4 linked regions of the Homo sapiens genome follow. The protein of the gene in region 3 purifies or fractionates together with the protein of the main gene of each other region. This does not show direct contact. Each region holds a gene or a part of one and is shown on either strand. Other genes may lie near its edges.

The links. The genes of interacting proteins can lie anywhere in the genome.
Region 1: the proteins of TPR (region 3) and NUP107 fractionate together in Homo sapiens (co-fractionation; 4 studies listed by BioGRID and IntAct, with this or other methods). This does not show direct contact.
Region 2: the proteins of TPR (region 3) and NUP93 purify together in Homo sapiens (affinity purification with western blotting; 2 studies listed by BioGRID, with this or other methods). This does not show direct contact.
Region 4: the proteins of TPR (region 3) and PTPN11 purify together in Homo sapiens (affinity purification with mass spectrometry; 2 studies listed by BioGRID, with this or other methods). This does not show direct contact.

What each region holds. Positions count from the first base shown.
Region 1 is NC_000012.12:68,738,978-68,742,477, reverse strand, and holds part of NUP107 (nuclear pore complex protein Nup107), read right to left. Parts: intron 666-3,500; coding exon 498-665; intron 124-497; coding exon 16-123; 3' UTR 1-15. UniProt on the Homo sapiens protein: Plays a role in the nuclear pore complex (NPC) assembly and/or maintenance. Required for the assembly of peripheral proteins into the NPC. May anchor NUP62 to the NPC. Involved in nephrogenesis.
Region 2 is NC_000016.10:56,834,629-56,838,128, forward strand, and holds part of NUP93 (nuclear pore complex protein Nup93), read left to right. Parts: intron 1-105; coding exon 106-150; intron 151-1,972; coding exon 1,973-2,089; intron 2,090-2,979; coding exon 2,980-3,098; intron 3,099-3,500. UniProt on the Homo sapiens protein: Plays a role in the nuclear pore complex (NPC) assembly and/or maintenance. May anchor nucleoporins, but not NUP153 and TPR, to the NPC. During renal development, regulates podocyte migration and proliferation through SMAD4 signaling.
Region 3 is NC_000001.11:186,330,254-186,333,753, forward strand, and holds part of TPR (nucleoprotein TPR), read right to left. Parts: intron 3,142-3,500; coding exon 2,869-3,141; intron 2,091-2,868; coding exon 1,942-2,090; intron 1,329-1,941; coding exon 1,245-1,328; intron 1-1,244.
Region 4 is NC_000012.12:112,425,447-112,428,946, forward strand, and holds part of PTPN11 (tyrosine-protein phosphatase non-receptor type 11), read left to right. Parts: intron 1-3,500. UniProt on the Homo sapiens protein: Acts downstream of various receptor and cytoplasmic protein tyrosine kinases to participate in the signal transduction from the cell surface to the nucleus. Positively regulates MAPK signal transduction pathway. Dephosphorylates GAB1, ARHGAP35 and EGFR.

The sequences.
Region 1 (3,500 bases), on a different chromosome or scaffold from region 3:
ATTACAAAGATTAAACTATAACTGAATTTCATACCCTAATGGGTCAAGTCCCTGGTCTAGGAGCATTAGAGAGGACTCTCTGAGCTTCTGCAGCAACTTCCTTAGCTCTTCCTTAGAAAATACCTGATTTTTAAAAAGAGAAATAAGAATGAGAACAAAGACAAGTAGACAAGTATGAACTTAGTTACCTAATCGATCTGATTAGCTTCATATAAGAAGAAATGCCTCTTTAAGATTTATGTAGCCAGAGCCTAGTAAATTAGAGTGGTTCAGGAATTTCAAGGTGAATTCTCAGAGTCAGTCTATATATTTCTAACTGCTTACAAATATACACACATTTTGGGAAAAAAGTACAAACATTAAAACATTAAAACTGGACTATTACTTTAAGAAAATCCAAGAGCAATTACAAATGTAAACACATCTTCACAAAATTAATATTACTACAGAGCATATCAAATCATTAAAATTTAAAACTACAAGGCTCTAGAACTTACCAGGTACAGTTTGTGGCGCTCAGAGGATACCATATCTGCTAACTGTAGGCATTCCTGATACTGACCAGTACTGTGCAATATCGTATGAAGCAGAAAACACAACATTGGCAGACAAAGCTTTCTCAGTAAGACCATTTGATGTGTTCTTTCATGGTCTTCTTTGGCATCCTACAAACAGACATCAATAAATCATTTTAACAATTTAAGCTAAAGATCCTTACAAAAAGAAAAGCCAGGTACTGAATCAAACCCAGAATGTAATTGGTAGACAAGATTTAACAGCAAAAAAGTATGAAGATGAACAACGTAGACTACAGAGAGGTATGACAGTGAAAATAAAATGCTTCTGCATTTGTATTTCTAATAAACTTACTATGTCCTGAATAAAAACATGCATAAAAAGAATGAGTTGGAAACTGAATATCATTAGAGCAAAAATCAGAACAGAAAACAATCACCACTCCTTTGGATGTTTATACATATAAATAAAGATAGCTCTAAGGAGGCCTGAGAGGACACAACAGACTGACAGCAATGACTGTTGCTGGGAAAAAGACGATGTGGGGAGGGGCACACAGGGAGGGTCAACTTCATTGCAGACTACTTTGCTTATACACATGGAAAATGGAATTTATAATTTCTTTATATAATTTTTAAAAACAGAAAAACAGAACCTATAGATTTGAATAATACAATTAATGAGTCAGAACAGATATATAAGGAAAACAAGCAGAAAAAACAATTGGCATTCCTTTATACATACATGGATCTTTCTTAAAATCGATGTGAACAGTAAAAGTACAGAAAAAAGAGTAAACCTCTTATGCCCACTACATTTACTTACAAAAAATTTGAAAATTAAAATAATTAGAAAGTAACCAACCACATAATTTCTTTTTTTTTTCTTTTCTTTTTTAACCTTTTTCTTCTTTTCTGAGACAGCATCTCACTCTGTCGCCCAGTCTGGAATGCAGTGGTACAATCATGGCTCTCTGAAGCCTTGATCTCCGGGCTCAAGCAATCCTCCTACCTCAGCCTCCCAAGTAGCTAAGAACCACAGGCATGTGCCACCATGCCCGGCTAATTTTTCTATTTAAAAAAAAAAATAATTTTATTATTTGTAGAGATGAGGTCTCCCTATGTTGCCCAAGCTAGTATCGAACTCTTGGGCTCAAGTGATCCTCCTGCCTCAGCCTCCCAAAGTGCTGGGATTACAGAAATTACACACTACAATTTCTGAAATAATCTTAAAAATAGGAAGGAAATCAATAGCACTAATAGTGTAGAAAAAAAAAACAGGACAAGCTAAAATAATAACTGCTCCTTTGAAAAGCCTAATGGAATACCTAAAAGTATCTTCATGTGAGAGGCTATATTAAATTGCTAAAACATTTTTCAAATGGACATGTAAGTGGAGGGGTTAATCAACAACAAAGTATAATCTGGTAATTATACCAAGGAGTAATTGTACTAATTTGGGCTAATCTAGGTCAGGTTTCCAAACATAGGAAAAATTACTATCAATATTTTGGTCTTGTTTGAAGCATAAATACATAAAAGCAAATATTAAAGTGCTTCTTTACAAGGGAAGCACCTTTATTTCTTTTCTCAAATAGATACTTGCTACCTTCAGAGGTGGATTTAAAATGCTTCAAGGTTTTACTTGTAATTCATATTAGTGATCCCAACCTAGAACCCAGTAAGAATAAGAGAACTGCTTCTTTCTGGACCTTTCCATTTGTGCTCCAATGTAGTCTTTCTGTCTATGTTAAAGAGGCCGGGTGCCCCTGGCTTCTGACTCCTTGTTGCCCGAAAAGCAGCAGGTTACTTTCTTATCTCACAGGATGGACCCAGACTTGCTTTTACTAAATCCTTTTGCTGCCATAATATCAGAGTGTGCTGCAGACAATCTCTTCTGCTAATTATAATGAATTCCGATACTAGCGGGCGGGCTGCCAGCAACTATCCAGGGTAATGGCTGACAGACCCAGCAAATTGCTACAAGGAAAAGCAAATAAACAGCTCTGCTACAACTGAAGACATTTTTCTCATCTGAATGAACAAAAGCTTTGAAATAGCCGGTAAATATGTAAAACAGACGGATTATTTCCACTAGGGATATTTCCACTTTTTTTTTTTTTTTTGAGACGGAGTCTCGCTCTGTCGCCCAGGCTGGAGTGCAGTGGCGCGATCTCAGCTCACTGCAAGCTCCGCCTGCCGGGTTCACGCGATTCTCCTGCCTCAGCCTCCCGAGTAGCTGGGACTACAGGTGCCCGCCACCACACCCGGCTAATTTTTTGTATTTTTAGTAGAGATGGGGTTTTACTGTGTTAGCCAGGATGGTCTCGATCTCCTGACCTCGTGATCTGCCCACCTCAGCCTCCCAAAGTGCTGGGATTACAGGCGTGAGCCACCGCGCCCCCCCATGTAGTGCCTTACATGTGAGAAAAACTCATTACCTAATATGTGTTGATAGCAAGAGTTGATTGGAACTGATATTACAGCTATTCCTAATCTGAAGACAGTACATTCACCTCAGTAATGCAGTATCATTCATTTACTAAGTACCACTGAAAGCCTCCCATGTGCTCAGCATTATTTTAAGTGCCAGAGTCAAAGAAATAAAGAAAACAAGGTTACTCCCTTCATGAAGGTTATATTCTAATGAGGGTAGACATACAAAAAGCAAATAAATTAATATGTTTTATATCAGATTGTGCTAAGTGCTATGAAGAAAACTAATGTAGGATATGGAGATTAAAAGGGACAGGTGTGTGTGTGTGTATACACATGCATACATGCTATTTTAAATAGGGTGGTTGGGTTGGGGAGAGGTTCTTGAAAGAGATGACATTTGAGCAGCTGCTGAAAGAAGTACAAAGTCATCCATGCACCTATCTTGGCGAAGGAGCATTCTAGGCAGAGGGGAACCAATGAAGAGGCCCAGAATGCCAGGATATAGTGATGGGAGAGCAGTAGGACACAAGATTAGGGGGTTAGTTT
Region 2 (3,500 bases), on a different chromosome or scaffold from region 3:
TTATCCCATTCATCCCATTTGATTCCCCTCTTTTTTCTCTGAAGACTTATGGAATATGTTTATATCTTTGTCCAATAATTTGAGTAAACTTTTTTCCTTCCACAGTTCGATATGATTCTTGGGAAACTAGAGAATGACGGAAGTAGAAAGGTGAGTTAAATGCATCCTTAGAGAAATGTTCGTTAGCCATTGGGGATTTATAAATATCAAAAAATACACTTAGATTTTAAGATTCAAGGTACTAAAGATGCAAATCTGAACAGAGTTGCTTAATTTAAAAAATGGAATGAAAATTATGGGCCCAAATGATGACCTTGGTTTTACACACACTTATATCTCCTTAAAATATGTTAATTTGTGATTACATAGCTTTTTTATTATGTTCAGAATATTCATTTGTTCATGCCTGTCATTTTTTGAGCTGAGAATGCTATTATACATTTCTGCCATTCTTGGCTCAGAAAACATGCAAGGAAAAGAAATTGATTACTGCACCCATTCTCCCAAGATGGGAAAGTTAGACATGCACTTGACCTCCTTCAAAATGCAGTTTCCAAGGGCTTTGAACTCCACAGTGACCCTGGAAATACTTCTGGAAGCTTGAGGGATTTCAGGACTCACTATGCCCATTGGTTGTCATGGCAGGAGGGTCAGAGATCCTGTTGTCAGAGACCAGTCATGACCCTGAATCTCCCTGTGGCCCTTGGAAAGTCACTTGTCCCTCAGGGGCTGAGTTTTCTCGTTTGTAAAAATGAGTGATTTGGACCCAGCAATCTGTAGATGAGCTCACACTGCTCACACCATCTACCTCAGAAGAAAGGCAAGTGACAGTGCTGATGACAGTGGCCTTGCTTATTGGGCAGTGACAATCAACAGGCATTGTGCTGAGTGCTTTGCATAGTTTCTTCTTTAACAGGCTGCACTGGGGCCAGGAGGCTCCTACTGTATGTGAGTTGACAGAGCTAGAAACATAGATAAGACCTTATCCTCTGCTACCTCCCAAGTGGCAGGGCAAGTCACCTCAACCTGGTCCAGCCACCTTGACCTGGTCTAGCCCTGAGAGTCCAGCGCTAGTGGAGAAGCAGAATGGCCAGGCAGAGATGTTATGCACTTGCCTTCATTCTCCCAGGGTGCCTAAGGCCTCTCTCATGCTCTCCTGACCATTTAGTTGCTGTTGAGTGGTGATGGTGATTTTTTTTTAAGAAATGTCCTGTTACCAGCCGGGCGCGGTGGCTCACGCCTGTAATCCCAGCACTTTGGGAGGCCGAGGCGGGTGGATCATGAGGTCAGGAGATCGAGACCATCCTGGCTAACACGGTGAAACCCTGTCTCTATTAAAAATACAAAAAAATTAGCCAGGCGTGGTGGTGGGTACCTGTAGTCCCAGGTGCTCGGGAGGCTGAGGCAGGAGAATGGTGTGAACCTGGGAGGCAGAGCTTGCAGTGAGCCGAGATTGCGCCACTGCACTCCAGCCTGGGAGACAGAGCAAGACTCTGTCTCAAAAAAAAAAAAAAAGAAATGTCCTGTTACCACTTGCTGTGTGTTTTTTCAGCACTGAGTTCCTTTTGCCATCTGTCTTAGAAAGCAAATCCAAAATTTTTCAGATATTTTTTCTAAGCCTCCTGATTTTTCTCTCTAGTTCCTACTTATCAGCAAATTTAAAATCATTGATTTCACTGACTCTCTGGGTCATTTTGGAAAATTAGAAAGCACAGATGTCTTATTGCTGACTCCTCTGTGCTTCTAGTAAGTCTGCCCTTTCATGTGTAGTTTCCTTGGTCTCTTTTATAGTTTTAATAGGACTTTATATCTTTAAGAAAGCCAGAGTCTGGCTGATGAAATATATGCGTTGCCCAGGGCAAGCAATTCCACTTGAAGTATTTTTTGGATCCTAATTGCTTCTCTGTGTTTAAAATAATAGCTCTGTGCACCCGTCTCTCTCTTCCTCCCCCTCCATAATTTGTCTTGTCAGCCTGGAGTCATAGATAAGTTTACTAGTGACACAAAGCCTATTATCAACAAAGTTGCTTCTGTGGCAGAAAATAAAGGACTGTTTGAAGAGGCAGCAAAGCTGTATGACCTTGCCAAGGTAAAGTGTGCCCACTTCCTTCTTTTGCACTTCACAGGTCTGCTGGCCTTTTGGCATTAAATGTGCAGCCACTTGGACAGTGTCATTGTTGTAGCACCCTCCCTGCAGAGGCATTTGCTCTAGTGCTTAGACAGTTAATGGTCCAGTCAGGACAGAATTCCCATTTTACAGCATTATTTCTGCCCATAAGATTTTTCTGACCAAACAACATATTGAAAGGATGTCCTGCAGGCATTGAACTGTTGTCTCACTTGGCAGCAGAATTAGCATCCATCACATTTCGATGGTGAAGCCACTGTTGAAAATTACATTATGCTGACCCTGGCAACCACAGACACACTGGGGAACAGTGGTGTTAGAAAATAAGACCACATCAGTGTGCAGGAAGGAGTGAAAGAAAATAAGACCTTAGCTGGGCGTTTTGAGAGGACTAGAATACATGTTTCTACCGAAGAACAAATGATGACTAAGAACATATGATAACTGCTAAGGATTCTATGACCTAAACAAGATTACATTCTCTCCTTTATCAACTGAGAAAAGTAGACAAAAAAACAGCTATAGGCCAAGTGCAGGGGCTCACGCCTGTAATCCCAGCACTTTGGGAGGCCAAGGCAGGCGCATCACTTGAGGCCAGGAGTTCGAGACTAGCCTGGCCAACATGGCAAAACCCCGTCTCTACTAAAAATATAAAAATTAGTCAGGCATAGTGGTGCATGCCTGTAATCCCAGCTGCTCAGGAGGCTGAGGCACGAGAATTGCTTGAACTTGGGAGGCGGTAAAAAATGTCACCCCAGAAAGTTCTCTTTGGTGGGTAGGGGGCATTATATAGTTGTTCCTTTTATTGATTACTTTATTGATTGCTTCCTTAATTTTAAAAACTTGAGCAGAATGCTGACAAGGTACTGGAGCTGATGAACAAACTGCTGAGCCCTGTCGTCCCCCAGATCAGTGCCCCGCAATCCAACAAGGAGAGGCTGAAGAACATGGCACTCTCCATTGCCGAACGGTAAGCCAGGAGCTGGCTCCATGGGACCCTGAGGGTGCCACTGCCAGTGCCAGGCCACCTATGCCCACCCAAATGCATGTTCAGCTTTACTAGGTAACAGCAGACAGCTTTCCAAAGTGGTTCTACTAACTCACCATGCCACCAGCACTGTGTGAGTTCCTTTGTCCCCGCATCAGAACTAGTACTTGGTACTATCAAACTTAACATTTTTGCCAAAGAAATGGGTATGAAAGGGCATCTCAGTATTTTAATCATGCACATAAAGCTTAATTTTAAGCATTATGCTCGCCTAAATACTGTTGTATACTTTCATCAGCCCTCTCAAAGGCATTCAAGACCAAAGCTAGTGATGGTTGGATGGGGGAGATTCTTAGAGGTGTCGTGGCCAGTGTTTCAGACTAC
Region 3 (3,500 bases):
AAATATAAGCCTTTGCTAAACTCCTCTAACTGGAACTATCGGGCAAGTTATCAGACTCCTATCTCTGATTTACAATCCAGACCACTACAACTCTGACTGTAGAGAGCACTGGCAAGGAACTGCAGACACCTTAAGCTAGTTTCAACCTGCTTAAAGAGGCTGCGCACAAACTGTCTTTGTGTCCTGTAGTTCACCTTTTGTTCACTCTTCACGTAAAGAGCCAAATTCCAGCTCATTTTCATGCTAAAACGCTGCCCCAAAGTGAACATGGGATGTATATTATATATATTTACCTACTGTTTATATGCTCAGTTCCCCTCATAAATATGTATAGCGTTTCCCCAAAACCTGCTGAATATGCATGACTCTATTGTGTAATAAGGACCCTGTGAGGCATAAAACCACACCTGTCCCTGCCCTGTGTGAAGACAGAACACCTTTGGTCCACGCTGGAGACTATTTCTTCCTCATGAGCAAAATGATATCACTAATAAAGCTCTCCTTTCTATTAAACACTATTTAGCCACCCTGGGGGTCTTCTTGATGACAATATGAATTCTCATTTTGTGGGACAGAAGGAAGAAAGGAAAGTAATAATATTCTGAGTGCCTAATATGTGGCAGGTACTACTTTAGGTATTTTACAATCCTAAAAATTATATTTTTTGACAAGTGAGACAATGCAGGGAATTAATGATATGCTTACAGTCACAAAGCTTCCTAGTGGTGGAGCTAGGAATGACACCTCATGCTTTGTAACTTCAGGGTCTATATTCTCTCCGCTAGTAAAACTGCTAGGGGAACCTCAATGAGAGATCAAAAAATGAAGAGGTATATAAATGCATTTCCTTTTATGGATTACTTTAATTCTGTAAGGGAAATAATACAGGGGAGTAAGAGAGAACCAGCAAATGGGGCACTATAAATTAACTCAAGATGCAACCAGCACTCTTGTATTTCATGTAATTAAAATAGGGAAAAATCTTGGCTCACAACTCTAAAAAATCTGGAAATCTGTGCTATATATGAACAAAAACATTTCTTTAATATAAGTTTAGAAGGCAGTACACTATACTCATAGGAGTAAAAGAAAGCAGACTCTGCAATGATTAATTCTAGTAGTATTTCATTACATATAATAAGAACAAGCTAAAAAAAAAAAGACCAAATAATGTTTCAATTTGTCAAAGCTAATTTCATTCACGAAAAGCAACGGTGTGGTACTTTAGGTATGTTTTTACTTACTTCTCCAATGGAATCTTGAGAATCCTGGTTGTATACCTGAGTCTCTACCTCTCCATCAGTACTTTCTTCTGCCATAACTTCTTCCTGTATCATAATACACTAATATATTAACCATATCAGTGTAGTAGATGAAGGGTTACCTGTTTTTGTTAGTTCTCTCATTTGAAAAAACCCTTCAAATCTATATTTTATGAAACTATAGAAAAATAAAAAAATTTTATTTAAAAATTATAATCACATTCCTCCTCAGTATACACAAAGTAAGGTTTATGAACATTAATACATGCTAATACAATTAATTTAGTAGCCTTAATGTTTGATTTGAAACCTGCTTCATTACAATTTAATCTTAACCACAAAAAGGAATATAATTTTGGCTAATCTTAGAAAAAGATAGCAGGTAACAGTTTATGTCCATGAGACTTAGAAACTTCGAGATGAAATTCAACTTATGTTTTTATGACTGAGCTTTTTTATTGAAATAGAAACAAATGCAATTAAAGATATGCAAGAATATAAAACACTGTTGGTAATAATACCTGGGTTGTCAGTGGAATCTTTGTAGAAAGTTCAATAAAAGTGTTTTCCAGATAATATATTTTGGCCCCAAAAGGTTAATTTTCTTTAGGCTGTAGCTGAAAAGAGTACCTTAACTCTACTGGTAAAAGTTAAAATACACAGAAAGAACTTTACGCACCTCAGTTCCTACAGGTGTGACACTTTTCAACTTCTTTGGAAGAGGCATTTCCACTGTATCATCAGAGACTTGGTCTGATGCTTCTATGGTGCTATCCTCTTCCTCTTCACGTGTACGCTTTGGCAAAGAAGAACTGGGGGTAGCCGAAACTTTGAAATTATATAAATCTTGAATTAGAGCATGATAATAACTCAATTTAGATAAAGATAGTTTACCCAATATGGTCACTTAACTAAAGGAGAACACAGTAAACATTTAATTGTACAGATTACTAAAATACAATCAATCAACTCCTAGATCAATGTCCATCAACATAATTTGTTTCTGCTAAGCTATGGGTAAACAAAGAGCAACTTATGCTCTGAGTCAATGTTTTTATACCAACCCAAGCTTTGCTTAATAAAGCCAGCCAATTTTTACAATATATCTGGTTCACTGAGATTGTATTACTATGTTGTTATCTACAAAGTTTACATGGGACCTTCTATAAAACTCAGGACTCCTTGAATAAGAAAAAATGTACACTGTATGTAAATCAGTATATAGTCTTATCTTAGGTGTCTTTTAGTCCTCAGGACTTCCGTTAAATTATATACAATGTTTTGCATTAATATGTAAGACCAGTAAAAAAAATAACTGGAGGGGGAGAATCATCTTAATGACAAACAACTGATTTAAAATAGTCATATTCAGTAGTAAACATGAAATAAAATGTTAGTAATATATTCATTCATTCTAATTCCTGGTAGAAAGCATGTATGCACAAAGAATACTTGTGATACGTATTATATCCAAGATATTATAATTGCGTAGGTCTATTCTAACTTCATTTGTACAAAGAATACTCAAGATATATATACTCAAGATACACTCAAGATCTTATAAATGCATAGGTCTACTCTGACTTCATTTTAAAATTAATTTTACCTGTGCCAAATACTGCTGTGGAAGTAGAAGGCCGCTCAACTGGTGAACTCTGAACAACCTCTACTATGTTTGAAGATAACTCTTGATTGGCAGGCTCAATCTGAGGATGACTCTGTTGAGTGGGTTGCACAAAAGCTGTAGCCTGTGTTTGTTGCTGAACAGTTAAAATAGGTTGAGAGATAGAAGGCTGGACATTAGGACTAGTAGAACGAACGGATCCACTTGTGCTTCCAAAAACTGGAACATGTTCCACAGGCCCTTCTGACTGCATAGCTGAAAAATAATTATAATGCTGAATATAAGCCTTCTACTTTTATCAAAGCTGAAATTATCCTTCCTATTCTGTGGTACATGTCACCTTTCACACAGATTTGGCACTTGGTAGACAAATACATTGTAGGTAAAGGTAATGTATTATGCATTTTTATATTCCCTATGTAATTGATATGGTAGCATGCAATAAAATGTTGCCTGAATTAAATAAATATCTGTAACTGATTTTGCATCTATTCATTTAAATTACTGTTGAATAAAATTAATGAAATTAAGCTCAAAGTAAAATTAGAATTTTTCATTAAGCATCATTTAGTTTTTAATTGATATAACAGATAGTAAATTTGATTAGTAATATA
Region 4 (3,500 bases), on a different chromosome or scaffold from region 3:
AACAAACTATAAACTTATTCCCCAAGAACAAATATAATAATTTTTCTGGAGTAGCAGGTAAGAAAGATATAAATTTATATGTATACAAGAAACTGAAATTAGACTTTATACATTTAAAGGTTACAAGTGCAGTTTTATTACATGAATGTATTATCCAGCATTGAAGTCTGGGCTTTTAGTGTAACCAGCACCTGAATAACATACATTGTACCCATTAAGTAATTTCTCATCCCTCAAACCCCTCCCACCCTGAAATTAGACTTTGGATCCCTAGTTTAAATTCCACCCCTCTCTTTTTTTGAGACAAGGTCTCACTCTGTCACCCAGGCTGGAGGGCAATGTTGCAATGATAGCTTACTGTAGCCTCAACCTCCTGGGCTCAAGGGATACACCCTCCTCAGCCTCCTGAGTAGCTGGAACTGCAGGCGTGCACCACCACATTCAGCTAATTTTTTGATTTTTTTATAGAGATGAGGTCGGAACTCCTGGGCTCAAGCGATTCTCCCCAAGTGCTGGGGTTACACACATGGGCCACTGCCCCCAGCCTAAACCTCCTTTCTCAGTATAGCAGCCTTGAGATGAAGTTCCTGAAATTACTGGCCAGCTTGACTGTTTCCCCACATCACTGGAGGAGGGGGATGCATAGATAAAACAAAATATTCAGCATCATTGTATTTTCTTTTTGTTTCATCAGCATCTTTTTTTAAAACTCACTTGACATAAGTCCCTAGCCTCAAAGAGTAAAGCCTTTGCAGAATCTGCATTCAGATTTCGGGTGTGATTTCCTGACAGATAGTTCAGGTTTGTAAACTCTTTTTTTTTTCTTTGAGACAGAGTTTCACTCTTGTAGCGCAGGCTGGAGTGCAGTGGCACCATCTTGCCTCACTGCAACTTCTGCCCCCTTGATTCACGCGATTCTCCTGCCTCAGCCTCCTGAGTAGCTGGGATTACAGGCATGCGCCACCACACCTGGGTAATTTTTGTATTTTTAGTAGAGATGGGGTTTCACCATGTTGGCCAGGCTGGTTTTGAACTCCTGACTTCAGGTGATCTACCTGCCTCAGCCTCCCAAAGTGATGGGATTACAGGTGTGAGCCACCGCAGCCGGCCAAAACTTTGTTTTTTTTCCTCTTTTTGTTGCTGAGAAATGTAAACTCTTACAGACACAAATTATGTCTCCCATTTTTTAAAACCCACTCAACACAGGGGTCATGTGTAATAGGCCCTGGAGCTTATTTTAGACATTGATTTGAGGCTCTTTTCCCCAAGTGCTGGTTTGTGTGTGTGTGTATGTGTGTGTAAGTCTTTCTATGAGATGAGTGGTACCTACCTGGGCTGTGTGATCTTTTTTATTTTATTTATTTTATTTTTGTAGATACGAGGTCTCACTATGTTGCTCAGGCTGGTCTTGAACTCTGGGGCTCAACCTATCCTCCCTCCTTGGCCTCCTAGAGTGCTGAGATTACAGGTGTGAGCCACTGCACCTGGCCAGCGATCCTTAATAAATATAGATAATGGCCGGGCGTGGTGGCTCACACCTATAATACCAGTACTTTGAGGGGCCGAGGCTGGCAGGTCACCTGAGCTGAGGAGTTTGAGACCAGCCTGGGTAACGTGGGTGAAACCCTGTCTCTACAGAAAATAGAAAAATTAGCCAGGTGTGGTGGTGCATGCCTGTAGTCACAGCTACTTGGGAGGTTGAGACAGGAGAATTGCTTGAACCTGGAAGGTGGAGGTTGCAGTGAGCCGAGATCGTGTCTTTGAACTCCAGCCTGGGTGACAGAGTGAGACCTTGTCTCAAAAAAAAATATAGATATAGGCTGGGCGTGGTGGCTCACACCTGTAATCCCAGCACTTTGGGAGGCCGAGGCGGGTGGATCAGGAGGTCAGGAGATCGAGACCATCCTAGCTAACATGGTGAAACCCTGTCTCTACTAAAAATACAAACAATTAGCCAGGCCTGGTGGTGGGTGCCTGTAGTCCCAGCTACTCGGGAGGCTGAGGCAGGAGAATGGCGTGAACCCGGGAGGTGGAGGTTGCAGTGAGCCGAGACTGTGCCACTGCCCTCCAGCCTGGGCGACAGAGCGAGACTCTGTCTCAAAAAAAAAAAATCTATATATCTATATATCTATATCTATATAGATATAGATATAGATAATGCCAGATGATGGCTGGTTAGAAGGGATTGTCAGGGGCTGGCAGGTTTTGCAGGTGTTAGAATGAGCAAGATGAGGAGAAGGATGCTTACTTCCCTCTCCTTGTAACTCTCTACCCCCTCCCCTCAGTGTTTTTTTATTTTTATTTTTATTTATTTATTTTTTTTGAGACAAGGTCTTGCTCTGTCACCCACACTGGATTGCAGTGATGCAATCATAGCTCATTGAAGCCCAAACTCCTGGGCTCAAGTGATCCTCTTGCCTCAGCCTCCCAAGTAACTGGGACCACAGGTGCGTACAACTATGCCCAGTTAAGTTTTTCATTTTTTATACAGACGGGGTCTTGCTATGCTGTCCAGGCTGGACTTGCACTTCTGGCTTCAAGTGATTCTCTTGCCTCAGTTTCCCAAAGTGCTGGCATTATGGGCATAAGCCACTGTGCCTAGCCCATCAGTGTCTTTTTATCCTTTACTCCTATCAAAATTCATTCACTCAGCAGCCATTGATCAAGTGCCTACTATATACATGTTGAGGACTGGAAATTTATTTGTCTCTTCTCATCTTATCTGGACCCTCTGTGTTAATTGTAATTAACTGTAATCATTCTGTATTAATTGTAATAAACTTGTTGATAAACTCAAATGAGGCCATACCGTTTTGCCACTTCCCCTCCTTCCAGGTTATATGGATGTACTTACATTGCAGGTTTCATTTGTTGGTTCAGTTTTTAAACTAAGCCCTATTGTGTCAAATTATGCTAGGTGTGAGATGGGGAGTTCAAGCTGTGTGTTGTCTTTTTTTTTTTTTTTTTTTTTGCCTCACTTACTAATATACAAGCGCTTATAACCTTTGAGGCTGGCCCTATACATTAAGATTTTTATTAATTCCACTGTTCTTTATCTTCTCTTACTAAGTTCTCAGGGTCGAATGAACTCTAACTGCTCCTTGCTAGTGATAAGCAAGTTGCAAATTACAGAATTGTCAGTGATTGAATACACGTATTAAACCTGTAACTGGGAAGCATTTTTGGTAATTATGAATACTTTTGGAAAAAAAAAAGCTATGGAAGGAAAGTTTAAAATCTACGAAAGCTCAAGTAGATGGTCATGGAATAGCTATTTCAATTTCTAACTATATATTACTTATTTATTTATTTATTTTTGAGACGGAGTTTAGCTCTTGTTGCCCAGGCTGGAGTGTAATGGCGTGATCTCAGCTCACTGCAACCTCCACCTCCCGGGTTCAAGCTATTCTCCTGCCTCAGCCTCCCGAGTAGCTGGGATTATAGACATGTGCCACCACGCCAGGCTAATTTTGTATTTTTAGTAGAGACGGGGTTTCTCC